Regions from separate parts of the Homo sapiens genome. Here regions 1, 2 and 4 are each linked to region 3. The links come from fine-mapping of genetic effects on gene expression. A gene starts in region 3. Each other region holds a variant in brackets. All regions are shown on one strand. Distances are between the middles of the regions.

Region 1 (8,084 bases), 100 kb after region 3:
CCATCTCAAATATTTTTTGAAATCTACCATGTTCTGAGACTTTGCCCAACCCACAGGGGATGAAAGAGACACGAGACTCTTCAAAAACGCGATCACTAGGTGGAATCAGAACAGCAAGCAGATTGTGGGTATAACAGGACAGAAAGGCATTCAAGTTCTGTAGGACCCAGAGGAAGACACCCAGCCTCACCTGGAGGCATCTTTATCATGCGAGTTTTTCTAAGGTTGAAGCCGAGTCTTGAAAGATGAGTAGGTGATCATTTATCAAAGAAGAGAAGAGCATCCCAGTGAGTAGAAACAGAATGTGCCAAGGCCCATGGCGAGAGTGTGGGACAGCCTTTGGGAAACAGATAGAGCGGGCATGGGGATGGCAAGGTGGCTGGTGAGGCTGGGCTGCCAGGCAGGCAAGAGGCTGGAGGACTCCATCCTGAAAGCCTGGGGAGCCACGGAAGGAATCTGATCAAAGGATCAGCCTGATACAAGTTGTGTTGTGCACCCATCATCCTGGAGACTTGTAGGGGTGGGCGAGCTTGGGTCTAGGATTGTGGTGGGAGGCCAGGCAGCAGGACAAGCATGCCCTGAGGATGTGATCGACACAGCTCTGACTCCAAAGTCCCCCACAGATGTGTGGCCTCTGAAGTCCTGGGCAGCCAAGGAGGGAGGTGGGGGAGGGCATCCTGGGGAGCCGCATGTGTGGGCTGAGCAGAATTTATAGCTGACTCAGGGACCCGCATGGGTCAATGGCTCTAGAGGGTTGTGTTGGGCAACCTGCAGCTTCAGCCAGAGGGCCAGGGACAGTGCTAGTGCATGGCAGGGGAGCAGGCTGTGGCCAGCCTCTCACCCTACTATGGATTCCCGCCCTGCCTGGGCCCCCAGAGCAGCTGGAGATGAATGAAGATGCTGTCAGTGGCCCTGCAGTCATAAAGGCCCTGGGGGCCATGTGACACCCAGAATGAAATGCCAGCCCTGGGTGTGGGGCGGAGGCGCCGCAGATCTTCAGGCTAAGGTGAAACCTGCTGCATCGATGAGTGCCTCTGAGCCACATGCGTTTGTTCAGGTGGATGGGATGAGGCAGCTCAGGGGGAAATTGAGGGCAGAGGGCTCGGGGTTGGGGGCAGTCAGGGTGTCAGAGAAGCTCGAGGGCGGTCCTCTGGGCTGCACCCTCGCCACTTCTGGAAAGAGGGAACATGTTGTACGTGCAGGACCTCAACCAGGAAACCCGAAGCTTGTTGATCTTGAGCGCCTCCCGGAATCTTGGCCCCAATTCTGGGCTCAGGACCCAGGGTGTGCATCACCCAGCCTGCAAAGGCTGGATCTCGGGGCTCGTGGAGGACAGACAGATTCTGGGTAAATGTGGCTCCATCCAGTGCCATCGCCAGCCGGGATGCCAGCGCCTCTTGAGGGACAGCTGCAAACTGCCAGGTGTTCTGATTCCAGCCACTGCCCCCCGCACCCCATTCAGGCCTCTGTGCTGGTTGTTAAAATTATTGAGCACCTTCTGGGTACCAGGCCTTGTGCAGAGCACATTATGGACTTACTCCATTCAATCCTTGGAGAAGTTCCTCAAGGGGTCAGCCTCATTTTACAGAGGACGGAATTAAGGGTTAGTTATCCAAGGAGTAAAGGAGGCAGAGATGCCAGCTGGGTGTGAGATGAAAATGGCCCAGGACTTCAATTTTTTTTTTTTTAAGAATGTCCTTCGTATTGCCAGGCACAGTGGCTCACCCCTGTAGTTCCAGCACCTTGGGAGGCCGAGGCAGACAGATCACTTGAGACCAGGAGCTTGAGACCAGCCTGGCCAACATGGTGAAAACCCTTCTCTACTAAAAATACAAAAATTAGTCTGGTGTGGTGGCACACACCCATAGTCCTAGCTACTTGGGAGGCTGAGGCAGGAGAATTGCTTGAACCCAGGAGGCAGAGGTTGCAGTGAGCTGAGATCACGCCACTGCACACCAGGCTGGGTGACAGAGACTCTATCTCTAAATAAATAAATAAATAAATAAATAAATAAATAAATAAATGCCCTTCATACCTTCATATGTCACAGAATAGAGGCCTGAGAAGTTCTCACATCCATTGTCTTTACCTGGGCTCACCCAAAATTCAGGGAGCCTGAGGCTTTTGGCTTCTGTATGGAAACTTAAGGGCGTGTGACCCCGGGGGATGGAGCGATGGACAGGAGAGTGAAGCTGGAGAAAGGAGGACTGATGGCAGATAGCACTGGTGGAGAGCCCTGGGCCCCAGTTCCCAGAAGCTGCACAAACTCATCCTGGGGGAGGTGGGAGGAGACTTTGTCCCGGTGCTCCTGCCTCCTGCCTCTCTGGTGGTGATGTGTGGTGCCCAGGCAGGGCGTGCTCCACGGGCACGCGCACAGAGCTGTCTGCAGACAGAGGCGCCTGGAGCAGGATGCAGGTGAGGCACAGAGGGCTTGCTGTGGAGCCGCATCTTGCAGCTGGGGGCACTGAGGCCTGAGAGGCTCTGACAGGCCATGCACTGGTGTCTGAACCAGGACCTGCTCGAGGTCACCTTCCTCCCAGGCCACTGAAGTGACTGTGGTGGTGAGAGGTAGGCAGCGGCCTGTCTGCCTATGTGTGTGTGTGTGTGTTGGAGAAACAGTATTTGGACTGATGTGCAGGTGGCCAGGAAATGGAGCACGGACACGGTCCTGTCTAGCAAGTTCTCAGGAGCATGTGTGCCCCATATAAAGAAGGTTGGCTGCAGGGCTGCCAGTCCAAGCCCAGAGTGTCCAGGCCCCCATCCCAGGATAGCCCAGCCCAAGCCAGGACATAGTGCCAGTCACTCTCAGGAAGAGCAGGGGACAGTGACACAGCACATGCCCTGGGCTGTTGAACTGTTCCCACTGAGTCCTCAGACAGCCCAGGGGCCCAGGGAGAGCAAGAATGATGAGTAACCAGGCTACGGCATCCAAATAAACACCACCCCAAACCCCAGACCAAACCACCTACAGAGCCTGCCAGCTGCAGCTGCCAGAGGAATCAATACCCATTGTTCTCCTAGACAAATGTTCCCTCTGCACTTTTGGCCACTGTGTTCCAAGGGATGGCTAGGTGTGGGTTTACATCATGTGGATGGACACAGCTTAATGGGATCTGTTCCTCAAATTGCTCCACCCCACAACCTCCCGCTGCAGGGTCATGAGTTGAAGACAGCTGCCTGGCTGGATCCGGGCGAAGAGCAGGCACCAGGCCTATGTGGACTCCAGTCCCTGAAAGCTGGGTGACCTTGGCCTTGGGTTCCTCGACTACTCAAGAGGGGTGAACATCTGCAGCTCTCGCTATCTCATAGGGTTGGCCTGAAGGTTACAAAGATTCCTGGGAAAAGCAGCCAGCAGGAGTAAAACACACAGTGTTACGGCTCCTTATCTAATTGCAACGGGAGGCATCCAGCTTAGGGCAAGGAGCGTGGGCTTCCCAGTCGGACAGGCCTGGGCTCACGCGCTGGCCTTTTCCATCAAGGCCTATCACCTCTCTCAGCTATGGGTCAGAGAAGTTAGCCTGCAGGACTGTTGGGAAAGTTGCAGCTGCATGCCTGGGTCTTAGCACGGTGCCATGGCCGTGAGAATTATAATGTGGCTGCCATGGTCCAGGCACTGAATGAGCTCAGAGGACCCCTTGCACAGTGCCTGACCAGGTCAGGCCAAGCATCGTGGACAGAGCCGGGGCCACATCCTCTCTGTGCTTAAAGGCCAAAGTCAGCACACCCACCTCTTCCATGGACCTCTCTTAAATTCTTCAAGTCCTCCTTGTGGCCCCTCCTCCAAGCTTCTAGATCCCATGTCACCTATTCCATTCTTTTTAGCTCTTAATCATGGCAGGGGACATTTGCTATTGGATGGAGAGGGGGCTACCCAGTATGTTTGCCCCCTTCTTATTTGAGAATAAGGCCCTATGATGTGAGTATTGGCAGGAGATAAGCCACCCACTGTGGAAGCTGAAGGGGCAGGCATTCTCTCACCTTGTTCCTGGGCAAATGGACCCAGATGTGGCTAAAAGGACACTTCCATCCAGGACTCAGACTTAGGTGGGTGACATTAAGTGGAGGGAAAATGAGATGCCATTTCCTGTGGCAGTGTCCACAGGTGGCAGCAGTGTCCACAGGTGGCAGCAGTGGCCCTGGTGTCCCTCTACGGCGGGAGCATGAGCTTCTGGTGGGCCTTCCCCACAGGCCTCCAGGTGGGACC[A/G]TGGCCAAGCTTTTGCCCCTGGGCCTCCCTTGGTGGCTGCCCACTTCCTAAGCCCGTTCTCCCACCTTCCTGTCAATTCTCAGCTCCTCAGTCACCAGCGTTGGGTTTCTGTTGCTTGCACACCCAACATGCACGTTTGCCTTTGCATAACACCAGCTGTTCCAGGTGAGCAAATAATCTTCCCCACTGGACTTCACCCCCTGGGGGCAGAAATGCTGCCTTACACTGTGGTGTATCACCCAGTAAGTGCCTCCTGGTGCAGGCCATCTGGTGAGGGATGCTTGGACTCGGCTGCCAAACACATCTGCGATAGGATCCAGGTTCTATCATTTACTAAACTGGGGCTCTGAGTAGTTATTTACTCTCCATGAGCCTTGGTTTTCTCATCTATAAAATGGGCACCTACTTCCTAGGATCTTGACTTAAGAAAGTAGACATGAGTATTGTGATGGTGGTGGGGTTGGTGGGGAAGAGAGAACAGAATTTAGGCTGCTCGTAAACCAGCTCTCATGCTGGGACTGGTCTGGGAATGAGGACTGGGATGGGGGCAGGGGTGAGGCTCCAGGATGGGGGTCTGAGGGCCTATGGTGGGCAGAGGCAGGGTGCCTGGTAATTAATTCTATTTTTCTTATTGTTAGATTTGCACTTCGCCATCTTTGCTATTTAAATCTTAGTTGTTGATGGAAGTTTCCAAAGGCTTATATTGCCTCTCCTGAAACAAAACACGAGCTCTTTGAGGAACAAGACTTTGTATTTTCATCTTTGTACCCTCACAGCACCTAGTACGTTGTAGTTACTTAATACAGTTACTTAATACATATTTACTAATTAGATTCTAATTCTGCAGGGTCAGTAGGTTTCATGCTGCCTGGACTTTCCAAAAAGGATGTTTGCTGACGGGATGGCTTGTTGGAGGAGGAAGATTCTGTAGAAATTCAGTTCCCTTGTATGTTCCCAGCCTCTGGCAGGAGTTGGGGATAAAATTGAGCCCGTGGTACAATGGGGAGACAGGTAGGTATTTACTGTCATTACAGAGTCATCTGTGTTTAAATAATTATTTAGGAATGCATATACTCTGTTGTTCAGCCTATCCCTTAAGCCAGGTATCATACAAGTGCTCTAAATGTCTTCTCTCATTGAATTGTCACAAAGCTCTTCGAAGGTAGGTGTTATTATCAACCTGATTGTATAAAAGTAGAATTTGAGGCTTAGGGGCCTGCCCAAGTTCAAATAGCAAGTAAATAGTGGAGCCAAGGTTTGAACCCAGATGTGTCTGACCCCCAAATCCATTGCCCTAACCACTGCTTTGTGCTACCTTGATAGAGACAAACTCCTTGTTCAGGAAACCCAGAGGAGGGAATACCTGAATTGGCCAGGAAAGTCCAGGAAGCCTTCCTGGAAGAGGAGGTGCTTAGACTGAAATTTTAAAAAACCACACTTTTAAATGGACATGTTCAAACACCCGCAAAAGTAAAGAAGATATGAAATAAATCTTTAAGAAACGAGGCAGAGTTGGGGAACAGGTGCCTGCCAGAGTCCAGGATTGTTAAGCCTTGTGCATCCTGGGGACACTCAGAGACAGGTAGGAGGCCTTGCAGAGTGTAAGGTGTGACCAGAGGCAGTGTAGGGGTCAGATGGAGCTGCAGCGGTGGACACCCCTTTGGAGCTTGAGTTACTTAATTCAGAAGATGGCTGTTCCTTATGTTTGGACTTCCACCCATTTGTTTGGGGCAAAAAGAAAGCATCGGCACGTGGCACATGGCAGGTGAGGAAACGTGCTGTTTTTGGATTTCCCCAGCAGTGGGTAGGTAAATAATTTCTTGCAGTTTGGCACAGTTGGGTTCAAGGGTGAGGACTTCAATCTTTCAGCACTGATGGTTTGAGGCAAGTGATGGGAATCTGAGTCACTCTTGCAAAGCCTTAGTTCAGGGGAGGCTGAAGGACTTCATGGGAGCTGGGGCAGGCAACAGAACTGGGTAGAGCTGGGTGTGGCCCTGGGTTTTACAGCCATGGTCCCTGGGCAAAATCGTTTTCCCTCTTGGCATGTTTAGACAACAGAGATGGTTGTTGCTTGGATTAAAAAAGGTTTTATGGTTGGTTATAATTTTTGACATTGGAAATGTCCCCACGTGTGGTGGAGTGGTCAAACTTCCTGAAGAGCAGAGGAGGAGAAAATTTCCTGGGATGTCTACAGCAACAGAAATTGTCACTACGCCAGGATACAGCCAACATCACCATGTACCTGGCCTAGGGGCAATTTTGCAGTGTTCAGACTAATTTTTCCCCCTTTTTTCTTTTCTTTTATCTTTTAAGATTTATGTAGAGCCACTTTTGCTGTGTTGCCCAGGCTAGTCTCAAACTCCTGGCCTCAAGCAATCCTCCCTCCTCGGCCTCCCAAAGTGTTGGGATCATAGCCCAGCCCAGACTCATTGTTCATTCATTCTCTTACTCATCCACTTATTTCTTCTACTTGTTCACCCCTGATTTATGGCCTTGCCTTTGTTCTGGTAATTTTTCTGTTCTGATGTCCAGGTTTATACCTAGATGAAGAGAAAAGAGAAATAGCTAAGAAGGAATTCTCTGACATTCCTTCTTAATTTCCTCTGCCAGCCTGTCTTTCTCAGGTGAGGCTTTAAGTATTTTGGCAAGCAAAGAAACACAAAAGACAAAGCATAGCTGAACTTCACTAGCATGTGTGATAAAATCACTCAGTCTCCCTGTGGGCAAGGTGAAGGGAATATACTTTATTTACTTTAGCCGCATCCCACAAATTTTAATACTCTATGCTTTCATTCAGTTAAAAATACTTCCTAATTTGATCTGTGGTCTCTCCCTTTCCCATGAGTTATTTAGAAGTGTGTTGTTTGGTTTCCAAATGTTTGAGTATTTTCCAGAAAATTTTCTATTACAGATTCCTAATTTAATATCATTATGATCAGAAAACATACCTTGTGTGATTTGAAAACTTTTAAATGTATTGATACTTCTTTTATGGATTACAGTATTGTCTGTTTTGGTAAATGATTCTTGGGGACTTGAAAAAATTATATTTTCTTGTTGCCATTGTTGGGTGGAACGTTCAATTAGTGTAGTTGCTAGTGTTGTTCAAGTCACTGTATAGTTACTGATTTCCTGTCTACTTGTTCTATGAATTATTGAGAGAGAGATATTGAAATATCTAATGATAATTGTGAATTGGTCTATTCTTTAAGTTCTACCAGTTTTTCATTTATGTTTTTTTCAAGCTCTGTTATTAGGTGCATATTTAAAATGATAATGTAATCTGGAAGTAGTGGGCCCTTTATCATTTAAATAATGGCCTTCTTCATCCTTAGTAATATGATTTGCTTTGAAATCCATTTTTTTCTGATATTCATAGATCATTCTAGTATTCTTTTGATTGTGTTAGCATGGTATATCTTCTTTCATCCTTTTGCTTCTGACTTATTTGTGTCTTTATATTTAGAGTGCAATTCTGGTCAACAGGCTATAGTTGGGTCTTGCTTTTTTATGGCAAAATATACACAACACAAAATTCATCATTTTAACTATGTAAAGGGTACAATTCAGTGGTATTTAATACATTCACAGTGATGTACGACCATCATCATGTTCAAGAACATTTTCATCATACTACAAGAAAAAACTCTGTACCCATTGAGTGGTCACTCCCCATTTCCCACTCCCAGTCCCTGGTAACCACTATTCTACTTTATGTCCCTGTAGACAAGTTAAGCAATTTGAACTTTTAGTGGAGATGCCTAAAATAATTTTTTCATAAAGTCCAATAATTTTACTAGAATATATCTTGATATTGGCCATATATTTTACTTTTCCTAGGTATGTGATAATGCTGTTTCACTATGTAGTTATAAAATAT
Region 2 (8,084 bases), 28 kb before region 3:
GGTCTGTGTCTCTTTTTTTTTTTTCTTCTTGCTCTGTCACCCAGGCTGGAGTGCAGTGGCACACTGAAGCCTTGACTTCCCAGGCTCAAGCAATCCTTCCATCTCAGCCTCCAGAATAGCTGGGAATACAGGTGAACATTAGCAGGCCCCGCTAATTTTTGTACTTTTTGTAGAGACAGGGTTTCGCCATGTTACCCAGGCTGGTCTTGAACTGCTGGGCTCAAACAATCCATCCTCCTCACCCTCCCAAAGTGGTGAGATTTTAGGGCTGAGCCACCTCACCTGGCCTGCCTTTTTCCCCACGTTTTTCTTGCCTTCTTGCACTGGCTAGGGCCTCTAGCACAATGCTTAGGGAAAGCAGACATCCTTACCATGTTCTTGATATCAGGTGGAAAACGGGGTACATGTTTACACTGAAATAAACTAGATTCCAGGCCATAAAACAAATCTGAATAATTGTTTCTTTTTTGAGACGGAGTCTCACTGTTGCCCAGGCTGGAGTGCAGTGGCATGATCTTGGCTCACTGCAACCTCTGTCTCCCTGGTTCAAGTGATTCTCCTGCCTCAGTCTCCCCCAGTAGCTGAGATTACAGGCATGTGCCACCACGCCCAGCTATTTTTTTTTTTTTTGTATTCTTAGTAGAGACAGGGTTTCACCATGTTGGTCGGGCTGGTCTTGAACTCCTGACCTCAAATTATCCGCCTGCCTTGGCCTGCCAAAGTGCTGCGATTATAGGCATGAGCCACCGCTCCCAGCCACAAATCTGCATAAGTTTTTTAGAAGGACTGATATCATGCAGGGCATGTCCTCTGACCACAGTGGAATTACACTGGAAATAAATATCAGTAATATTGTCCACACCATGTAAAATGCAGAAACCTTGGCTGTGCTTATGTAGATACATGTACTCTCCCCATCCTTTAGTAATTGTCATATGTATTACCTTGACATATGCTGTAAACCCCATACGCAATGCCATGATTTTTGCTTTACACAATCAAATGCATCTTAAAGTCATCAAGAGGACCAGCCTGGGCAATATGGCAAAACCTCATCCCTACAAAAAATACAAAAATTAACTGGGCCTACAGGTGCACCTGTAGTCCCAGCTACTTGAGAGGCTGAGATGGGAGGATCTCTTGAGCCTGGGTGGTGGAGGCTGCAGTGAGCTGTGATCACACTATTGCACTCTGGCCTGGATGACAGAGCAAAAGCTTGTCTCAAAAAAAAAAAGTCAGCTGGGTGCGGTAGCTCACACCTGTAATCCTAGCACTCTGGGAGGCTGAGGTGGGAGGATCACTTGAGGTCAGAAGTTCAAGACCAGCCTGGCCAATATGGTGAAACCCTATCTCTACTAAAAATACAAAAAAATTAGCCGGGTATTGTGGTGTGTGCCTATAATCCCAGCTACTCAGGAGGCTGAGGCAGGAGAATTGCTTGAACATGGGAGGCGGAGGTTGCAGTGAGCCGAGATCGCGCCACTGCACTCCAGCCTGGGTGACAGAGAAAGACTCCATCTCAAAAACAAACAAACAAACAAACAAACAAGAGAAAATTGTATATTTATATTTATACACTTTTTTTTTTTTGAGATGGAGTCCTGTCTAGGACAGAGTGCAGTGGCACAATCTCAGACTCACTGCAATCTCCACCTCCTGGGTTCAAGTGGTTCTCCTGCCTCAGCCTCTCCAGTAGCTGGGATTACAGGTGCCCACCACCATGCCTGGCTAATTTTTGTGTTTTTAGTAGAGATGGGATTTCACTGTCTTGGCCAGGCTGATCTCAAACTCCTGACCTCAGGTGATCTACCCACCTTGGCCTCTCAAAGTGCTAGGATTACAGGTGTGAGCCACCTCGCCTGGCTATATTGATACACATATTTAGGATTTCTGGTGCTCTTCATTCCTTCCTAGATATTCTTTCTAGTATTATTTCCTTTCAGCCTGACAAACATCTTTTTGCATTTATTATAGTGCAGGTCTACTAGTGATTAATTGTCTTTGTTTTCATTTATTTGAAAATATCTTTCTTTGGGGGCGGGGGTGGGACGGAGTTTCACTCTTGTTGCCCTGGCTGGAGTGTAATGGTGCGATCTCGGCTCACCACAACCTCCGCCTCCTGGGTTCAAGCAATTCTCCTGCCTCAGCCTCCTGAATAGCCGGGATTACAGGCATGCGCCACCACGACCAGCTAATTTTGTATTTTTAGTAGAGACAGGGTTTCTCCACGTTGGTCAGGCTGGTCTCGAATTCTCGACCTCAGGTGACCTACCTGCCTCGGCCTTCCAAAGTGCTGGGATTACAGGCGTGAACCACCGCGCCCAGCCAATTCTTGTTTTTTTTCAAAGATATTGTTCCACCGTCTTTGACTCTCATTGTTACTGATGAGAGGAACACACATTTTTTTATCCTTGATCTTCTGTATATTATGTATTATTTTTCTTTATTTCCAAAGCTTTTGCTTTATGTTTGATTTTCACCTATTTGACAATCATATGCCTTGTGATTTTTTGGTATTTATTTGGTGTGGGGTTTGCTGAGCTTCTTGAATCTATAAATGTGTGCCCACAAAATTTGAGACAAGGTTGGCTATCATGTCTTCAAATATTTTTGCCACCTCATTTTCTTTCTCTTCTTTTTCCAAGACTCCAAATACAAGGGTACTAGGGTTTTTAAATATTGTTTACAGTTCCCTGAGATTGTGTTTTTATTTTCAATTTTTTGTTGTTGTTCTGTCCTTCAGATTAGATCCCTTGATCTAGCTTCAATATCACTTATACGTCTGTCATTTATAATCTGCTGTTAAGCCTATCGAGTAAATTTTTGTTTCCGATGTTATGATTTTTAGTATAAAATTTTTAATTGATTCTTTTTTGTAGTTTCTGTTTCTCTGCTAAAGTTTTAAATTTTTATGTAGTCCCATTTGTGTATTTTTCCTTTTGTTGCCTGTGCTTTTGGTATCATTACTAAGAAGTCATTGCCAAATTCAATGTCATAAAGTGTTCCTCCTATATTTTTTAGAAGAGTTTTATAGTTTTAGCTCTAACATTTAGGTCTTCTATTCATTTTGAGTTAATTTTTGCACATGGTGTAGGATAAGGACCCAACATAATTCTTTTGCTTTTGGATATCCAGTTTTCCCAACACCATTTGTTTAAAGTACTGCCCTTCCCCTATTAAATGGTCTTGGCATCCTTGTCTGAAATTATTTGGCCATGTATTCAGGGCTGATTTGTGGGCTCTTTATTCTATTGTATTGTTCTATGTGTATATGTTTATGTCAGTACCACGCTGTTTTGATTACTGTACCTTTGTAGGAAGTTTTGAACTCAGGGAATGTG[A/G]CACCTCCAAATTTGTTCTTTTTCAATATTATTTTGAATATTCAGAGTCTCATGAGATTCCATATGAATTTTTTTTTTTTTTTTTTTTGAGATAGAGTCTTGCTCTGTCACCCAGGCTGGAGTGCAGTGGCACAATCTCGGCTCACTGCAAACTCCGCCTCCTGGGTTCAAATGACTCTCCTGCCTCAGCTTCCCAGGTAGCTGGGATTACAGGTGCACACTACCACACCTGGCTAACTTTTGTATTTTTAGTAGAGATGGGGTTTTGTCATGTCAGCCAGGCTGGTCTTGAACTCCTGACCTCAGGTGATCTGCCTGCCTCGGCTTCCCAAAGTGCTGGGATTACAGGCGTGAGCCACCACACACAGCCCCAGGAATTTTCTATTTCTGCAAAATACAATGTAGGGATTTCAGTGTGGATTGCCTTGAGTCTGTAGATCACTTTTAAGTAACATTGGCATCTGAACGGTGTTAAGACTTCCAGTCCATGAACATGGAATGTCATTCCACTTATTTGTGTCTTCTTTAATTTCCTTCAGCAACATTTCGTAGTTTTCAGTATAAGTTCTTTGCCTCCTTGGTTAAGTTGATCCCTAAGGATTTTATTCTTTGTGATACTGTTATAAATGGAATTGTTCGCTTAATTTCATTTTTGTATTGTTCATTGTTAGTGTATAGAAATTAACTGATTTTTGCCTGTTGATTCTGTATCCTGCTACTTTGTTGAATGCATTTAGTAGTTTGTGTATGTGTGTAATCTTTAGGGTTTTCTACATGTAAGATTATATTGTCTGCAAACAGAGATAATTTCCCTTCTTCCTTTCCAATTTTTATGCCTTTTACTTCTTTTTCTTGCCCAGTTTCTCTGGTTAGGACTCTTCCAGTACTATGTCCAACAGAAGTGGTGAAACCAGGCATCTTTGTCTTCTTTCTGATCTTAGAAGAAAAGCTTTCAGTCTTTGGCCATTCAGGTTAAGTTAGCTTTGGATTTTTCATATCTGGCTTTTAATATGTTGAGGTACTTTTCTTCTATTTCTAGTTTGTTGATTGTTTTTGTCATGAAAGGTTATTGAATTTTGTCACGTGGTTTTTCTGCATCAATTGAAATGGTCATTTTTTTTCTCATTCTGTTACTATGTTGTATTACATTAATCCATTTTCATATGTTAAACCATCCTTGGAGTTTTTTATTCCAGAAGTAAATCCCATTTAGTCATAGTGTTCCTTTAATATGCTGTTGAATTTGGTGTACCAGAATTTTGTTGAGGAATTTTGGATCAATATTGATAAGCAATATTTGTCTGAAGTTTTATTTTCTTGCAGTGTCTTTGATGTCATGGTAATGTTGGCCTTACAGAATGAGTTTGAAAATGTTCCTTTCTCTTCAATTTTTTGTAAGAGTTTGAGAAGAAGTGGTGTTAGTTCTTCTTTAAATGTCTGGTAGAATTCACCAGTGAAGCTATCTGGTCCTAGGCTTTTCTTTGTTGAGGGGTTTTTGGTTCTGAATCCAATCTCCCTCCTACTGATAGGTCTTTTCAGAGTTTCTGTGTCTTCATCAACTCTTGGTATGTTGTGTGTTTCTATGAGTTTGTCCACTTCATCTGGGTTATGTAATATTTTTGGCATGCAGTTATTCTAGTACTCTTTTTTTTTTTTTTTTTGAGACAGGGTCTCACTCTGTCGCCCAGACTGGAGTACAGTGGTGCGATCTTGGCTCACTGCAACCTCCGCCTCCCAGGATCAAGCGATTCTCCTGCCTTAATTTCCCGAATAGCTGGGATTACAGGTGCACACCACCACACCGGGCTAATCTTTGTATTTTTAGTAGAGACGGGGTTTCACTATTTGTCCAGGCTAGTCTTGAACTCCTGACCTCAAATGATCCAACCCCCTCAGCTTCTCAAACTGCTGGGATTATAGGGGTGAGCCACGGTGCCTAGCCCTCTAGTACTCTCTTATAATTTTTTTTCTGTAAAGTTGAATGGCCCTTCTTTCATTCTGATATTAGTTATTTTACATTTCTCTTTTTTTCTTAAGTCTACTTAGTTAAAGGTTTGTTTTCAATTTTGTTGATCTTTTCAAAGAGCCAGCTCTTGGTTTTGTTGATTTTCTGTATTGTTTTTCTATTCTCTATTTTATTTATCTTTGCTTTAATCGTTATCCTTTCTATCCTTCTGCTAGGTTTGGGATATTTTTCTAGTTCCTTAAGGCGTAACATTAGGTTGTTGATTTCAAATCTTTCTTCTTTTTTAACGTGTTTACAGCTATGAATTATCTTAGCGCTCTTTATACTGCATCCCATAAGTATTAGTTTGTGTTTTTATTTTTTATTTTTTGCTGTTGTCTCAGGCTTACTGAAAATATTATAACATTGCAGAAAGAGTCAAAACAGTTCCACGTGGCATTTTAAAATTCATCCCAACTTCAGGCTGAGTGACCTGCAGGTTGGATAGACTGCCAATGTCCAAAAGCTTTAGCATTTCCCCAGTGTGAGAATTTACTTCAGTGACCTCCTAATCCAGGACTGAGACCTCAGGAACAGAATTATCTCTCCTTTTTCTCTCCTCCTCCTAAAATGTGATGGAGATATTTCTTACTGGGACCCTCTGAATCCTCTGCATCAGATGTGTGACATAGCCTGCTATCTTGTTGCAGGACTTCCTACTGGAGATAATAGCAATCTCCACACACACACACACACACACACACACACACGTTCATGTGGAAGTTGTTGCCCAGGCTCATGTAGTGCTTTTCTGTGATGACCCAGGCCACCTTATTCACGGCTTTGGTGTGAACATGACTCATCTTGGTGGGTCCTTGGTGAAAGAGGAAACCTGTTGTTGTTGTTTTGTTTTGTTTTTTTTTATGGTAGCAACGGCCTTTATTGGCTGCAGCAGGAAGTGGAAGAGGGGATATGGTGTCTGCAGATTAGATCACTGCCCTCCAAAAAAGCAGAAACCTGTTTTCATTTTAATTTGTCTAAAGATATTTTCTATTTTCCCTTGTGATTTCTTCTTTGACCCATTGGTTGTTTAAGAGTGTGTTGTTTAATTTCCACATATTTGTGGATTTTCAAATTTTCCTCCTGCTATTGGTTTCTAGTTTCATTCCAATGTGATCAGAAAAGACACTATGCATAATTTTAATCTTCTAAAATGTATTAAGACTTATTTTGTGCCCTAACATATGATCTCTTCTGGATAATTTTCTTTCTGTCTTTCTTTCTCTTTCTTTCTTTTTTTTCTTTCTTTCTTTCTCTCTCTCTCTTTCTTCCTCTCTCTTTCTTTCTTTCCTTCCTTCCTTCTTTCCTTCCTTTCTTTCTTTTTTCCTTTATTTCTTTCTTTGTTTCTTTCTTTCTCTCTTTTCTTTCTTTCTTCTCTTTCTTGCTCTCTTTCCTTTCCTTTCCTCTTACCCCCCCTCCCTCCCTCCTTTCCTTCCTTCCTTTCCTCCCTCCCTCTTTGCCTCCCTCCCTCCTTCCTTCTTTCCTGCCTTCCTCTCTCTCTCTCTTTCTCTCTCTCTCTCTCTATTTCTTTTTTTTTGAGAAAGGATCTTGCTCTGTTGCCCAGGCTGAAATGCAGTGGCATGATCATGGCTCGCTGTAACCTTGACCTCCCGGGGTTAAGTAATTCTTCCTCTTTAGCCTTCTAGGTAGCTGGGACTACAGGCATTTGCCACCACCACACCTGGCTAATTTTTTAAATTTCTTTTTGTGGAGATGGGGTCTCTCTATGTTGCCCAAGCTGGCCTTGAACTCCTGGGCTCAAGTGATCCTCCCACCTCAGCCTGCCAAAGTTCTGGGATTACAGGTGTGAGCCACCCTCCCTGGCCTTTGTGCACTTGAGAAAATTGTGTATTGTGATGTTGCTGGGTAGATGTTCTGTATATATCTTTTAGGTCAAACTTGTCTAAAGCATTGTTCGAATCCCCTATTTTCTTATTGATCTTCTGTCTGGTTGTTCTATCCATTATTGAAAATTGGGTTTTAAAGTCTTCTACTATTATCATAGAGCTATTTCTGTCTTTAATTCAGTTGATACGTCATATAATGAGGAACTCTGATGTGTGGTGCATATATGTTTATAATTGTTATGTCTTCCTGGTGAATTCACCCTTTTATCATTAAAATCGATTTTGTCTGATATTAACATAGTCATCCCTGCTTTGTTTATTACTATTTGCTTGGAATATCCTTTTCTATCCTTTCACGTTTAACCAATGTGTATCCTTAACCCTAAAGTGAGTCTCTTATGCTGTAACATAGAAACACTGTTTTTTAAAGCCATTCTGCCAATCTATGTCTTATTATTGGGAAGTTTAATTCATTCACATTTAAAGTAATTACCCACAGGGAAGAATTTACTATTGGTATTTTGTTATTTATTTTCTGTATGTCTTGAAGAATTTTTGTACATCATTTCCTCCATTACTTCCTTTCTTTGTGTTTAGTTGATTTTTTGTTGTGAGATGTTTTGATTCCTTTCTTATTTTCTTTTGTGTATATTATATATGTATTTCCTTTGTGGTTACCATGAGGATTGCATATAATATCCCAAAGCTATAACAATGTATTTTGAACTGCTATAACTTCACTTGAATTTCAAACAAAAACCCTTCCTTTACAGCCATGCCCCCTCCACTTTACATTATTGATGTCACAGATTATATCTTTATATATTGTGTACCCATTAACATATATTTATAATTATATCTTATGCTTTTGTACTTAAATTACATAGAACA
Region 3 (8,084 bases):
CCCCAGGGGTCCAGACTAGGCCTAATTGGGCCCTGTAACACCCAAGAGTCATGGGCAGAAATATGCATTTTTGTTCACACAGTGTGACTCAAATGCTGTCTCTGTAGGCATTGCTGAATTCTACCCTCCCATAGTTAAAAACCTACAAAGAGAGAGAAAGTAGGCAATGACCCAAAATACAGAGAGTCATACTTAGGTCATGAGAGCCATCATCCCTGAGAAGCTAAACTCACCTGAACCTAAGCTTCACCACAACCATGAAATGAGCCCTTATTATTCCCAATAGCAAAACCCAGATCCACAGGGCCCAGCGTATCATTTTTCCATTTGTATGAAACAAACCAGCCCACACCTCAGTGGCGTAAGGCCACAGCCATCCATTTGCTCTCGAGCCTGCATTTTGGGCAGGGCTTGGGTGGGCAGGGCTTGCCTCAGTTCTATGAGGTGTGGTTGGAGGCAATCCCCTGGGGCATCTTAGATGGGCTCTGCGGAGTGGCCAGAGGGATTGGAGGCTGACCAGGTCTCCCTCTCCAATGGGGCATTTGGACTCTACCTGGTGGCTCAGAGCTCTGGGAGAGTTAAGAGAAGCTGCCTATCATGCTTGTAATCCCAGCACTTTGGGAGGCTGAGGTGGGTGGATCACCTGAAGGTCAGGAGTTCTAGACCAGCCTGGCCAACATGGTGAAACCCCGTCTCTAATTGAAATATAAAAAATTAGCTGGGTGTGGTGGCAGGCACCTGTAATCCCAGCTACTCAGGAGGCAGAGGCAGGAATATCGCTTGAACCCAGGAGGCAGAGCTTGCGGTGAGCTGAGATCCTGCCATTGCACTCCAGTCTGGGCAACAAGAAACTTCGTCTCAAAAAAAAAAAAAAAAAAAAGAGAAGCTGCCTAGGGGCCAGCCCAGAAGGGAAAAGCATTACTTCCTCTGCATTCTATGGTTAAAGTAAGTCACAGGGTCAGCCCAGGCGGAAGGGGGAGGGGAGGGAAACAGACACCACCTCTTGATGGGAGAAGCAGCATGAGGTCAATTTACTCCACCCAAGGTCATAGATTCAGATGGAGCTAAGTAGTAAACCCAGGTCTGAACCATCTAATAATATTGACTGCCCTTCCTCCAGGCCTTTGCAGGAGCGTCTACTGGGCCGGAAACCTCCCTCCATCTCCACAGATTGGTTTCACTTCCACTCACCCATCCATCAGGAGATATCACTTCATGCTGGAGCCTCTTCGGAGCTCCAGAGTCCTCCTCTGTGTTCCCAGGGCAGCCTCTACGTCCCTGACCACACTGTACTGTCACTGCTGCTTACCCATGGACCTCTCCTGTTAGAACTCAAGGACGAGTCCAGCAAAGGACATGTTCTTTCCAGACCACCCCAGAGTGTCTCCCATTTAAACAATGGGTTTGTCATGGACCCTGATGGGGTGAGGTTGGTTGTGGGGGTCGGTGTTCAGGATGTTTCTTTGGAAGTTCCCTTAAGAGTAACCCCTGGGCAAGGAACTGGAAGGAAGCAGGAGGGAGACCCTGAGCAGGACACAGGTCTTGTGACAGCTTTGACTGTCTTCATGGGGAGTCCTGGGGCTAAAATACCCCATCAGCACTGTCCCCAGTCAGGCAGAGATGGCCAAGCTTTTATACTTCTGCTGGGATAGTCATTGGGATGTGGGCTATCCCAGGAGGGACATGACAGAGGGCAAGGCTGCTCTCTGAGCAGGGGCAGTTCCTGGAGAAGCCGATGGCTGGGGGACTGTCTGCTGACAGCACCACCTGAAGCCGGGGAAATATTCCCATTCTCCTAACAGGGCAGAACAGTGGGGGGCAGTCCTTGAGGGCTGCACAGAGGAAGTGGTTTGCCAGTTGTGACCTATGGCTGGAGGGAGGAGGGCAGGAACAGCAGAGTGAGGGAGGGTTTTACCCACATCCATGCGTGGGGGAGTGGGGAGTTCTGGACCAGGTCCCCAAGGGATGTCATTTGACTGGATTAATACTCAGGGACAGAATCCCCATCTCCTCTGTGCCAGGTGCTGTGCCATGTACTGGAGAACCGGATAGCACCTGGATAGGGGTCAGGGCTCCAGGGAACTCCACTCCCTCCTAATGGCCCTCCCCTCCACCCCATGACCCACTGTCTACACTGCTGCCAGACTGATCTTTCCAAAAGGCAAATCATACATGTGACTCCTCTGCTTAAAACACAGAATAAAATCCTAGCTCCTTGTCCTGGCCTGCCAGGCCCTCTGATCTTCCCCGCCCTCCTCACCTCATCTCCTAAGCTCTCCTCAAGACCAGCCATGCCAAGTAGGTCTTCCTCAAGGCTTTGGCAGTCACTGTTGCCAAGGGGGTAGGGAACTATGCCTGGAACTATTTTTCCCTAGGTGATGTTCACAGAGATGCTTCCTTTGCATCCATCAGGTCTCAGCTCAATGTCACCTCCTCCAGGAAGGCTTCTCTGATTACTCTTTTGGTGCATTCCTTTTTTCTTTTTTTATGTTTACTCAACAAACATTTATCTTAACTATGTCCCATGCACTGTTCTAGGCAGTGCAGGTAACGGGGTGTTAAGCGAGCCAGGCCCTGTCCTCTTGGAGCTTACAGTCTAATGGGAAAGACAATCAGTACACAAGTAAAAATAAAAAATAAAAAAATGTCGGCCTGACTCGGGGGCTCACGCCTGTAATGCCAGCACTTTGGGAGGCCAAGGTGGGCGGATCACCTGAGGTCAGGAGTTCGAGACCAGCCTGGCCAACATGGCGAAACCCCGTCTCTACTAACAATAAAAAAATCAGTCAGGCGTGATGGGGGGCGCTTGTAATCCCAGCTACTCAGGAGGCTGAGGTAGGAGAATTGCTTGAACCTGGGAGGAGAGGTTGCAGTGAGCCCCGAGATCGCGCCACTGCACTCCAGCCTGGGTGGCAGAGCGAGACCCCGTCTCAAAAAAAAAAAAACCAACAAAAAAACCCCCATGATTTCAGAGCGTCTGAAGTGCTATGAAAAAACAAGAGCGAGGAAAGGCGACAGAGAGGGCCTAGGCTGGAAATCTCGGAGCCGCTCTGGAGACCGGCCCTGGGCGTAGAGTGGGGAGCAGAGGCCAGAGGGGCCGTGTGGAGCGGGTTGGGGGCGGCAAGGGTCACCTGAGCCCCACATCGGAGTTTGGGGAGAGCACCCGGCCGGCCCTAGAGCCCTCTGGTCTGGCCGCCCCGGAGGCGCGCTCGCTCGCCGGAAAGGCACGCGCGGGAGTCAGCCAGGTGCGGCTGCCGCGGGGAGCCGCCCTCCGGGCCGCGCTTCCTGGGGGGCGGGTCTCACCGCTGTCCCGCCCCTGGGCCGCCGATAAATGCGCCGAGCCGGCCGGCACCGCGGGTTCGGAGCGCGAAGCCGCCGCTGGGTCCTCGGCGCGCCCCGCGTCTGCGCTTGCTGCCGCGCCCCGGTCGGCGCGCTGGGAGTTCCAGCCATGCTCTTCTGGCACACGCAGCCCGAGCACTACAACCAGCACAACTCCGGCAGCTACCTGCGGTAAGGGCCGCGCGCGGTCCCCGCGGGTCTCGGGCCGGGCCGGCGGGCCGGGCGCCGTTGGACGTCCAGGGGCGGAGAGGGGGCGCCCCTGCTGGGCCCTGGCCTCCCCGCTGTCCGCCCTCTGGGGACTGAGAGACCCGCCCAGCGTCCCGCCTAGGGACTGACAGATGGACGCCGGCGGGACCCGACGTGCGGAGTTGGGGGCCCGCTGGGGAGGCGAGCGCGCAGAGCCCTATGTCTGCGAGGGCTCCTCCCAGGCGGCAGAGAGGGTGCAGGGCGCGCACCTGCCGGCCCGCCGCCTCCCCTGGCCCGTCCGCCCCCTGCGGCCCTCCTCTCCCCCGCGTATCGGAGAAGCAGAGGAAACTTCCTGCCAGCAGCCTGGTGCCCGGCCCGGGGAAGTTCGTCCCCTGCTCTTTGCCCGTCTCCGCCGGGGCCCCTCTCCCAGCCTCGCGCCCTCTGCAGTGCCCTTCCTTGGACGAGGGGCGGGCGGCGGGCTCGGAGGGGCAGGCCGCCCCACTTCCCGCGATGGTCTTGCGCGTGTTCGCCCGAGGCCCGCGTGGTTATTGCCCTTGATGGAAATCTTTCTTCTGCTGGAGGGATTTGAGTAGTGCCCTTCAGAGGGGAAAGTAAGTCCTGCGTGTTTTGCACAGTTCCCCACAGGCCCCTCTTAGCAGTAGGACCCCGTGTGCTCTCGCTCCCGGAGGATTGTTTTTCCCTGTTCTGCTGCTGGCCGGGACTAATGGGCAGTCATTTCACTTTGTGAACTCGCCTGAACCAGCTTTAGCCTGTCCTTATTTCCATCTTAGTCACAGTTTATGAAATGTGCCTAATTTAACCCAAAGGGCATTTGATATGGGCTCAAGGAAAATGAATGATGAGGCCGAAGGAGTCACAGGCATTGACAGCCCCCATACTAGAGCTACCTTTAAGTGCTAGTTTTGGCCCCAAGAAGTTCCCACTTAGATCTTAAAACGTTATTTGTAATTCCTGGCTGCTGGTAGGTATTTGTCCTCCCTGAAGACATCCCCTTTTCCTGGAGGCGGGGGAATGATTGGGTTTAGTGGATGTATCTGCTGTTTTTATTCATGGGCCAAAGTAGTCGGAGATGGCAAAGGTCTAGAGCCTTAAAGGCTGACAGCCACCCGGCAGACCACGGTGATGTCACCAGAGGGAAGCCCAGGAGGAGATGTTAATCACCCAGAGATTAAGTGTCCATTCACTTGCAAGAAATGCTACAATGGAATACATTTTTACTGTACTGAAGTTTTAGTTGTAGCTTTGGCTAAGTTTTAGTTTGCTGCCATTAAGTATGTTGCCATATCTTAACAATGAGTTTGAAGGTGACCCTGAGTTGAAGGTGAGTGTACTTGAAACTTCCTAGATACCTACAATGTCCTCACCCCGTTAGGGAACAATTCTCCCTTGCCTGGGAGGTACAGTTCTGACATCTGCTACCGAGATGGAAGTTTGTCTGGAGTAGCTCAGGTACCTTTTAGGATTTGGTGAAAGGAGGAGGGTGAGCGTTGGGAGTGGGTGGTGCTGTAAAGCCATATTGGCTTCTGGGGTCATCGGGGGACCATGGATAAAGAAGTCCTTGCCCTTTTTTATTTCACTTCTTGGAAGCTGGGAGTTTTGCCCTCAGTGAGGGCCAAGGTGGCGGTTTGTGCATATGCCCCTGGTCCCCTGACTCTAGAGGGAGGGTCTGGTCCTTTTCCTTGCGTTTTTTGTATTTTATTTTTGGTCGTCTCCTCACTTGGCAGAACTTCTGCAAGCTGTCTGACCTCACCAGGGTAGAGGCCTTTACTCCCTTCCCCCTTTCTGTTTGATGTTCTCGTGACTTTTATTCCTTGGCAAATAAAGATGCCAGGCTTGAAACAAGTTACTGTTGAGGGATGGTTCTTAACTTCCTCTGCCCACCCGCCCCTGTTTAAAAAATTTAAAGGCAGCAGTCCGTGGATTATTAACTTGACATGGTCTGGGCAAACATGAAATTATGCAATCCTCAGTGTTCCTAGAGAACCACCCGGGCTGGGAGTGTGCCCTGCTCTGACAAAAGGAAGACGCCCTGTGGGGGAAAGTCGAGACGGCCTTGCACCCTTATTTTTCGGCAGTGGATGGTGACGGGGGAGGCCCACACAGGGCAGGTTTTCCAGGTGTGTGCTCAATGCCAGGCTTTTTCTTCTCAAAATTGATGAGATGTTGATGGGGTGTGTGCCGGGTTTGTGTTGTAGAGACGCTTGTTTATGATGTGCGAGGAACAGATTGTACCAGTGACTCTGTTTATACAGACAAGTGGGGTCAGCTAATTGGATTCCTAGTCAGGGACCCACGAAGGGAAGAGGGTTATCAAGATAAGAGCACTGGCACTTATTTGGCACTTGTTTATGTGCTGCTCATAATTTAGAGACCTTACACAAGCCTTGCCTGCCTGTAGGTCATTCATGTTCTCAAGGAATTCTTTGTCCCTTGTAAGGGCATTTTTAAAATGCTGGGTTTTTTGTTTCTTTCTTTTTCCTTTTTTTTTTTTTTAGAGATGGTGGGGTCTCACTATGGTGCCCAGGCTGATCTCAAACCCCTGGCTTCAAGCAGTCTTCTCACCTCAGCCTCCCAAAGTACTGGGATTTCAGGCATGAGCCACTGTTCCTGGCTTAAAAAATACGTCCAGAAACAAGTTCCTCCCTAAGTCGCAGGATGATGACTTCATTTTTTTTTTTTTTTTTTTTTTTTTAATGTGGAGAGTTTTGTTAAGAGGTGGAGGAAAAGAAACTTGGAGCAAGGATTTCAAGATTTCCCACTTGGATAAGAAAATAGACTGGGCTGGGCGCGGTGGCTCACACCTGTAATCCCAGCACTTTGGGAGGCCGAGGAGGGTGGATCACCTGAGGTCAGGAGTTAGTGACCAGCCTGACCAACATGGTGGAACCCTGTCTCTACTAAAAATACAAAAATTAGCCAGGTGTGGTGGCTCATTCCTATAATCCCAGCTACTCAGGAAGCTGAGGCACAAGAATTGCTTGAACCCGGGAGGTGGAGGTTGTAGTGAGCCGAGATCACGCCACTTGCACTCCAGCCTGGACAACAAGAGTGAAACTCCGTCCCCCCCGCCCCCGCCCAAAAAAAACAACCACACAAACACAGACTTGAAGCCAAGGTCCTTCCTTCCTGTTTGCCTTTTGGACAGATTAGAATGACCCTGAAAACAGTGTCCAGTTGTCCTCTCTTTAGAAGGGATGGAGGAATGTCTCAACCTGGGTACTCAGGGAGGGAAGGAAGTGGTTTGTTCATTTGCATAGTTTACAGAGCCTGGAGGACAGAGTTGTATTGCTATGAGAAGTGGCCGGTAAATGGAATTGTTGATTAAAAAATAAAAATGTTTGTTTAGATTTTTATTCTAAAAGTGAAACTTTATGAGTGATCGCTTGTGGATAGAAACCAAATAAATGTCTTAGAGGTCCCTTTGCTGCTAGCCTGTCTCTGGCATGGAGAGGATTTCTGTAGATGTTAGCTAACTTTGCCCTTTTACCTCCTTGATGGGCTGATTGAATCAGTGTTTTGGGGGGTCATTGAGTGAAACTAGAGTCACGAAGGAGCGGTTTCCTCTGTTTTAAAGCATCTGGAGTATTCGAGGGTTGCAGGAGTGCAGCCAGCACCCTGCGATGCGCGTGCCGTGTCACCCTGGGCCCCGGTGGTCTGCGTCGTCTCTCTAGCTTCGCCCTGGCTCTGTGCAGGAGCCCCCTGGGGCTCTGCTCCTGACCTCTGCTTCCCGTGTGTTGCAGTGATGTGCTCGCTCTGCCCATCTTCAAGCAGGAGGAACCCCAGCTGTCCCCCGAGAACGAGGCCCGCCTGCCACCCCTGCAATATGTGTTGTGTGCTGCCACGTCCCCAGCCGTGAAGCTGCATGAAGAGACGCTGACCTACCTCAACCAAGGTAGTGGCCAGAGGCCCCGGGCCAGGGCGGAACCCAGAAGTAGTGGGGAGCTGATGCGAAAGGCCCATTTGGGCCTTGTGACTTTGTTACGGTGGGTGAGGTCGGGCGAGGTCGGGCTCGGGAAAGAGAACAGGTGCAGGTTCAGATTCCATTTTCCAGCTGTGTGACCCCCTCCAGCCTCAGTGTCTTCATCTGAAAAATGGAAACATCAGATACCTCACGCGGGTAACAGGGTAACACTCTGCATTCCTCCTATAGCCCCTCCATGGAGCAGATGCTAGCATTATTTCTGTTTTTCCCTCCCTCCCTCCCTCCCTTCCTTCTTTCTTTCTTTCTTTTTTTTTTTTTTTCCTTTTTTGAGGGGGTCTTGTTCTGTTGCCCAGGCTGGCATGCAGTGGCATGATCATGGCTCACTGCACCCTTGACCTCCTCAACCCAAGAAGTGACCCTCCCACCTTAACCTCCCAAGTAGCTGGGATCACAGGTGTAGACCGCCATGCCCGGCTAATTTTTAAATTTTTTGTAGAGCTGGGGGGGTCTCACTATGTTGCCCAGGCTGGTCTCAAACTCCTGGGCTCAAGTGATCCACCTGCCTGCGCCTCCCAAAGTGCTGGGATTATAGGCCTAAGCCACTGTGCCTGGACAC
Region 4 (8,084 bases), 390 kb before region 3:
TTCCCACCAAACTACTCACCTCACCACTCCAGCTCATACTCCTGCTCTTTTTAACATAGCCAATCAGAATTAGCTTAGACTGTGCGGTCCAATCCTAGCCATTAGGGCAACAACACAGCAGTAGGGGCTACTAGCGTCAGGAATAAGAACTCCTGCCCCTCCCCTGTCCTGGTATGATCTCACCATTGTTCCATCTGTGAGGAGCACCCTTTCTGCAGAAAGTAAAAATTGCCTTGCTGAGAAAATTAAATGTATGTTTGAGTGCTATTTCTTTGCAGCACCAGGGAACAAGCATTTTGCATTTCTAACAGTTTGGTGGCCCATGCAGGGACCCACTCTCCTCTGGGCGGTCTCCAGTCCTCTCTTGTAAGGAGGTGCCCCGCCGCCTCATTTCGGCAGCCTCAGGGGTGAGGAACCGAGACCTACCTGGTGTGATGAATAAACCCAGACTCTCAGCAATGTGGAAAGAAACTGGCCGGTGACCTGGGGTAAAGGATCCTTACATACCACGTGGACCAGACAACATCACGCACAAGCCAAAGAAGGAAACAGCGGAGGAGCTGGTAAAGTATTCCTTTGGTGGTAGGGACTAAGGAAAGAAAAACTGCAGGGGCAGTGAAACATTCCTTGGTTGGGACATACCAAGGAAAAAGAAGCCGTAGGGGTGGTAAAGCATTCCTTAGCCGGGACTAAGGAAAGAAAAACCACAGGGGGCAGTGAAGTATTCCTTGGTCGGGGTATCTTGGGGATTAAAAAGAGGCAAGATATTTCCGGTAAGGGAAATCGAGCCTCGCCCCAAAAGGTGAGACATTTCCAGTGAGGGAAATTGAGCCTCACCCCAAAAGGTGAGACATTTCCAGTAGGGGAAATTGAGCCTCACCCTAAAAGGCAAGACATTTCCAGTGAGGGAAATTGAGCCTCACCCCAAAAGGTGAGACATTGCCAGTAAGGGAAATTGAGCCTCCCTCCAAAAGGTGAGATATTTCTGGTAAGGGAAATTGAGCCTCACCCCAAAAATGGGAAATACCCCAAGTAAGGTACAGGATAAAAGAAATAAAGCTAGCAACAATAATATTCCCCCAATAATCCCCCAGGACTAATGTTAAAATATTAGAAGGATAAAAAAAAAAAAACTTAAGAGAGTCAGAGAGAGAAAGAGACAGAGAGTCAGAGAGAGAGAGAGAGAGAGAGAGAGAGCTAGAAGTAGTAAAGAGAAAGCAATGTACCCTATTCCTTTAAAAGCCAGGGTAAATGTAAAACCTATAATTGAAAGTCTTCTCCGTGACCCTATAAAACTCCAATACTGCCTGTAAAGAAGCCAGACGGGTCACACCAGTTAGTGCAAGACCTTAGAGCTATTAATCAAGTCCAAACTACCCACCCTGTTGTTATGGTAATAGATTTAAAAGATGCCTTCTGGGTTTGTCCGTTCACGGAAGACAGCCAGGACCTATTTGCCTTTGAGTGAGAAGACCCTCACTCTGATTGAAAATAGCAATACAGATAGACAGTCTTACCTCAAGGGTTTACGAAGTCTTCAAATTTATTTAGTCAAATATTAGAACAAGTCATTTAATTAGCAAAGGTAAATGGCAAATTGAGCTTGAATGGACTGAAAGTATCATATCCTTGCCTCTGCCGGAGACCAAACAAGAACTTAGAAAACTTTAAGATAAGTCAGATACTGTCATCTATGGATAGCCTCTTATGCCCTAAAAACAAAACCCTTATACAAAAAGCTCACGCAAGATGGGCAAAACCCCCTCCTCATTTGGCAATTACCAGAAATCCAACAGGTGGAAAGGTTAAAACATCTATTAGTAACTGCCCCTGTCCTAGATTTACCCTCAAGTAGCTATTCCATCTTGTTGTCAGTGTAAACAAGGGCATATCCCAAAAGCACGGAGGCCACTGACAACCAGTAGCCTTCCTATCAAAAATCCTTAACCCAGTAACCCGGGGATGGCCCAAATGCATTCAATCTGTAGCAGCAACTGCTTTGCTAACTGAAGAAAGTACAAAAATAACTTTTAGAGGAAACCTCATTGTGAGCACACCTCACCAGGTCAGAACTATCCTAAGTCAAAAAAGCAAAAAGGCAGCTTACTGACTTAAGAATATTAACATATGAGGCCATTCTGTTAGAAAAATATGATTTAACATTAACCACTGATAATTCCCTTAACCCTGCAGGTTTCCTAACAGGGGATCTAAATCTTAATTAACTACCATACAAAGGTCCGACCAGACCTAGGAGGAACTCCCTTCAGGACAGGATGATGGATGGTTTCTCCTGGCTGATTGAGGGAAAAAGACACAACGAGTATTCAGTAATTGATAGGGAAACTCTCGTAGAAATAGAGTTAGGAAAATTGCCTAATAATCAGTCTGCTCAAACGTGTGAGCTCTGCACTCAGCCAAGCCTTAAAGTACTTACAGAACCAGGAAGGAACCATCTATACTAATTCCAAGTTGATTTGGACTAAAGAGGTCTTAGTAATAGCAAAGGATAATTAAAAATCCCAAACTTACATGGTTTTCAACAAAAGTAAAGTTTGCTAAAAGTTAACAGTGTAACATGTATTATCCTAACTTCAAATCTTGTGGCCTTAGGGAAGTGGAGACTGCAGCGAGCCAAAATTGCACCATTGCACCCCAGTCCAGGTAACAGAATGACACCTTGTCTAAAAAAAAACAAACAAAAAACCCACAAAACTCTTAAGATGGGGAAGACATTGGTTTAAAGTTTACATAACAATCCCTGCCTTTGTTTAAGATACTTTTCCTGGCAATCTCACTTCGACTGAATCTTTACCCATATCCTTCTTCATCTCAGCAGAGAATGGTGCTTAGATCTAAGTGCTGTGCCTTTGGGATGTAAATTTTCACTTAAGAGTCATGTCTTTGGAAGTGCAAATTAAGGGTTATGTTGCTAACAGTTGTTTAGGGCTCCATAGTCTAAAGAGGGGAGAGAAACTATTTAAAAACTGGCAAATGGTTTCTGGGTGCGGTGGCTCACGCCTGTAATCCCAGCACTTTGGGAGGCCAAGGTGGGCGGATCATGAGGTTAGGAGTTTGAGACCACCCTGGCCAACATGGCAAAACCCCATCTCTACTAAAAATACAAAAATTAGCCAGGCACAGTGGCAGGCGCCTGTAATCCCAGCTACTCGGGAGGCTGAGGCAGGAGAATCGCTTGAACCCAGGAAGTGGGTGTTGCAGTGAGCTTAGATCACACCACTGCACTCTAGCCTGGGCAACAGAGCAAGACTCCATCTCAAAAAAAAAAAAAAAGAAAAAGAAAACCAAAACCAAAACCAAAACAAAAAAACCCCCTGACAAATGAAGAAGTTTATCAAGCTACAGACTCTGCTTTTGTTTGTATGTCTGTATGTATATATGTTCATATATGCCATGTGGATGTGATATTTCATTACCAAAATACACGAAAACTCTAATTAATTGGGTTAAAGAAAAAGTAAGCACTTAAATTATATATTTTATGAGAAAAATATAAGCTAACTCAAATGCCTTTTAGTTCAAATGATTTGTGTAAATTGTTGGTAAATAAGACTAGTTTAATACTGTTGATTTACTGAAAACAACCGTGTCCTCTGATTAACAAAATACCCGTGTATTTAACTTTAGAGTTCTGGCTAAAGTGTTAAGTTCCTAACATTTGTGGAATGTAAACATGATTACAAAGAAAAAACTGAAGATGATGGTGTAAGCACCCAATGGGTTCACCTTGCCCACTGCCTAGACAGAGCTGATTTCTCAAGACAGGGGAATTGCAATAGAGAAGGAGTAATTCACACAGAGCCAGCTGTGCAGAAACCAGAGTTTTATTACTCAAATCAGTCTCCCCGAGCATTTTGGGAGCAGAATTTTTAAGGACAACCTAGTGGGTGGGGAGAACCCAGTGAGCCAGGAGTGCTGATTGGTCAGGTCAGAGATGAAATCATAGGGAGTTGAAGCTGTCTTCTTGCAGTGAGTCAGTTCATGGGCAGGGGCTACAAGATCAGATGAGCCAGTTTATCAATCTGGGTGGAGCCAGCTGATCCATCAAGTGCAGGGTCTGCAAAATATCTCAAGCACTGATCTTGAGAGAAATTTAGGGAGGGTCATAATCTTTTAGCCTCCAGCTGCATGACTCCTAAATCATAATTTCTAATCTTGTGTCAAATGTTAGTCCTACAAAGACAATCTAGTCC[C/T]TAGGCAAGATGGAATGAACAAAGACAGCTTATATGCTAGAGGCAAGATGGTCAGTTAAGTTAGATTTCTTTCACTGTCTCAGTTATAATTTTGCGAAGGCAGTTTCTTTTTTTCTTTTCTTTTCTTTTTTTTTTTTTTTTGAGATGGAGTCTTGCTCTTGTTGCCCAGGCTGGAGTGCAATGATGTGATCTCAGCTCACTGCAACCTCCACCTCCTGGGTTCAAGTGGTTCTCCTGCCTCAGCCTCCCAAGTAGCTGGGATTACAGGCACCCACCACCACACCTGGCTAATTTTTTATATTTTTAGTAGAGAAAGAGTTTTACCATGTTGGCCAGGCTGGTCTCTAACTCCTGACCTCAGGTAATGCACCTGCCTGGGCCTCCTAAAGAGCTGGGATTACAGGCGTGAGCCACTGCTCAGCCCTGCAAAGACAGTTTCAGTAGCTAACTTTGTTTAATGAGCTACTCAAGCATACTTCCTAAGAATAAATAAAACTTTATTTACTTTTTTATGTTTTTTATTATTTACCATAAGGTTTACTTGCAAAAGAGAATAAATAAAAGTTTATAAATGAGCTTTACATTGTTTAAAAAATCTTTTTCAATAACTTAGAGTCATGTTATGTCAACCTGGGTAATAGCTAATCATAAAATGTCTGAGTCATCTATATGATACAGAAAAGCTAAATATTTAGTTCTGTTAAGAAACAAAAAATTGTGGAAACATCTTTCTAAACATTAGAAAATAGTTTTCATCACAAAAACTGACATAAACCATCTCAAATTACTTGCTTCCAAGGTTTTTCTTTTTTGTTTGTTTGTTTGCTGTTGTTTTTCTTTTACAAGCCCAGAACTAACATCATAACTTCCTAGGATTTCCACTGGAAATCAGGGTTAGGCTGGTTCCTTATTTTTGCAATTGCAAATTGTATTGCTATGCACATATGTGTGTAAGTCTGTTTCATACAATGACTTCTTTTCCTTTGGGTAGATACCCATTAGTGGGACTGCTGCATCAAATGGTAATTCTACTTTTAGTTCTCAAAGGATTCTCCATACTGTTTTCCATAGTGTTTGTACTACATTCCCACCAGCAGTGTGAAAGTGTTCCTTTTTCACCACATCCACATCAACATCTATTATATTTTGATATTTAAATTATGGCCATTCTTGCAGGAGTAAGGTGGTATTGCATTGTGGTTTTGATTTGCATTTCCCTGATAATTAGTGATGTTGAGCATTTTTTTCATGTTTGTTGGACATTTGTATATCTTCTTTTGAGAATTGTGTATTCATGTCCTTAGCCCACTTTTTGATGGGATTTTTTTTTTTTGCTGATTTGTTTGAGTTCCTGGTAGATTCTGGGTATTAGTCCTTTGTTGGATGAATAGTCTGTGAAAATTTTCTCCCACTCTGGGGGTTCTCTGTTTACTCTGCTGATTATTTTTATTTTATTTTATTTTTATGTTTATTTTTTTTGAGACAGAGTCTTGCACTCTCGCTCAGGCTGGAGTGCAGTGGCGTGATCTCAGCTCACTGCAAGCTCTGCCTCCAGGGTTCATGCCATTCTCCTGCCTCAGCCTCCCGAGTAGCTGGGACTACAGGCGCCTGCCACCACACCCGGCTAATTTTTTGTATTTTTTAGTAGAGATGGGGTTTCACCATGTTAGCCAGGATGGTCTCAATCTCCTGACCTTGTGATCCACCCACCTTGGCCTCCCAAAGTGCTGGGATTACAGGCATGAGCCACCATGCCTGGCCTTATTTTATTTTATTTTATTTTATTTTTGAGACAGGGTCTCGCTCTGTCGCCCAGGCTGGAGTGCAGTGATGCGATCTCGGCTAACTGCAACCTCTGTCTCCCAGGTTCAAGTGATTCTCCTGCCTCAGCGTCTCAAGTAGCTGGGATTACAGGCATGCACCACCATGCTCAGATAATTTTTGTATTTTTAGTAGAGATGGGGTTTCGCCATGTTGGCCAGGCTGGTCTCGAACTCCTAACCTTAGGTGATCCACCCACCTTGGCCTCCCAAAGTGCTGAGATTATAGGCGTGAGCCACCATGCCCAGCCAAGTCTGCTGATTTTTTTTTCTCTCTGCGGAAGCTTTTTAGTTTAATTCGGTCTCATCTATTTATTTTTGTTTTTGTTGTATTTGCTTTTGGGTTCTTAGTCATTAACTCTACCTTAGCCAATGTCTAGAAGAGTTTTTCCAATATTATATTCTAGAATTTTTATGGTTTCAGGTCTTAGATTCAAGTCTTTGATCCATTTTGAGTTGATTTTTGTATAGGGTGAGACATGAGGATTAAGTTTCATTCTTCTACATGTGACTTGCCAACAATCCCAGCACCATTTGACCATTTGTGGTTAGGGTGCAGCCTTTGTTGAACAGGGTGTCCTTCTCCACTTTATGTTTTTGTTTGCTTTGTCGAAGATCAGTTGGCTTTAAATATTTGGCTTTATTTCTGGGTACTCTATTCTGTTGCATTGATGTACACGCCTATTTTTATACCAGTACCATGCTGTTTTGGTAACTATAGCCTTGTAGTATAGTTTGAAGTCAGGTAATGTGATGCCTCCAGATTTGTTCTTCTCACTTAGTCTCGCTTTGGCTATGTGGGCTCTTTTTTGGTTCCATATTAATTTTAGGATTTTATTTTTATAGTTCTGTGAAAAATAATGATGGTATTTTGACAGGAATTGCACTGAATTTGTAGATTGCTTTTGACTGTATGGTCATTTTCACAATATTGATTCTACCCATCCATGAGCATGAGATGTGTTCCCATTTGTTTGTGTCATCTATGACTTATTTCAGCAGTATTTTGTAGTTTTCCTTGTAGAGATCTTTCACATTCTTGGTTAGGTATATTTCTACGTATTTTATATTATTTTTTACAGCTGTTGTTAAAAGGGTTGAGTTCTTGATTTGATTCTCAGGTTGGTCACTGCTGGTGTATAGCAGTGCTACTTATTTGTGTACATTGATTTTATATCCTGAAACTTTACTGAATTCATTTATCAGGTTTAGGAGCTTTTTGGATGAATCTTTAGGGTTTTCTAGATATACAATCATATCATCGGCAAACAGCAATGGTTTGACTTCCTCTTTACCAATTTGGATGCCCTTTATTTCTTTCTCTTGTCTGATTGCTCTGGCTAGGATTTCCAGTACTATATTGAATAGCAGTGATAAAAATGGGCATCCTTGTCTTGTTCCAGTTCTCAGGGGGAATGCTTTCAACCTTTCCCTGTTCAGTATAATGTTGCCTGAGGGTTTGTCATAGATGGTTATTACCTTGAGGTATGTCCCTTCTATGCTGATTTTGCTTAGGGTTTTAATCATAAAGGGATGCTGGATTTTGTCAAATGCTTTTTCAGCATCTATTGAGATGATCATATGATTTTTGCTTTTAATTCTGTTTATGTGATGTATCACATTTATTGACTTGCATATGTTAAACCATCCCTGCATCCCTAGTATAAAACCCACTTTATCATGATGTGCTATCTTTTCGATATGCTGTTGGTTTTGGTTAGCCAGTATTTTGTTGAGGATTTTCCCATCTATGTTCATCAGGGATATTGGTCTGCATTTTTGTTGTTGTTGTTATGTCTTTTCCTGGTTTGGGTATTAGAGTGATACTGGCTTCATAGAGTTTTTTTTTTTTTTTTTTTTGACGAAGTTTTGCTCGTGTTGCCCAAGCTGGAGTGCAGTGGTGCAATCTTGGCTTACTGCAATCTCTGCCTCCCAGGTTCAAGCAATTCTCCTGCTTCAGCCTCATGAGTAGCTGGGATTACAGGTGCCTGCCACTACGCCCAGCTAATTTTTGAATTTTTAGTAGAGATGGGGTTTCACCACGTTGGCC

What was found. PIP is the estimated chance that this variant, and not a neighbour inherited with it, causes the effect.
Region 1: its variant is the best candidate, but not a certain one, in a credible set for the expression of TFCP2L1 in skeletal muscle (GTEx, PIP 0.56).
Region 2: its variant is the best candidate, but not a certain one, in a credible set for the expression of TFCP2L1 in whole blood (TOPMed, PIP 0.89).
Region 4: its variant is the best candidate, but not a certain one, in a credible set for the expression of TFCP2L1 in whole blood (TOPMed, PIP 0.56).

What each region holds. Positions count from the first base shown.
Region 1 is chr2:121,180,758-121,188,841 of GRCh38, reverse strand. No RefSeq gene overlaps it. Among named protein-coding and RNA genes, the nearest start is that of TFCP2L1, 100 kb to the left of the region's middle. The variant A/G (reference allele first, on the strand shown) is at 4,205.
Region 2 is chr2:121,308,061-121,316,144 of GRCh38, reverse strand. It overlaps the pseudogene RPS17P7. Among named protein-coding and RNA genes, the nearest start is that of TFCP2L1, 27 kb to the right of the region's middle. The variant A/G (reference allele first, on the strand shown) is at 3,342.
Region 3 is chr2:121,280,474-121,288,557 of GRCh38, reverse strand. TFCP2L1 (transcription factor CP2 like 1) reads left to right here and starts at 3,356. Exons shown (of 15, transcript NM_014553.3): 1 at 3,356-3,510; 2 at 7,287-7,438. The coding sequence starts at 3,449. RefSeq lists a silencer at 3,191-3,330.
Region 4 is chr2:121,675,133-121,683,216 of GRCh38, reverse strand. The region is part of intron 2 of NIFK-AS1 (NIFK antisense RNA 1); the gene reads right to left. Among named protein-coding and RNA genes, the nearest start is that of NIFK-AS1, 30 kb to the right of the region's middle. RefSeq lists an enhancer at 2,657-3,159. The variant C/T (reference allele first, on the strand shown) is at 4,215.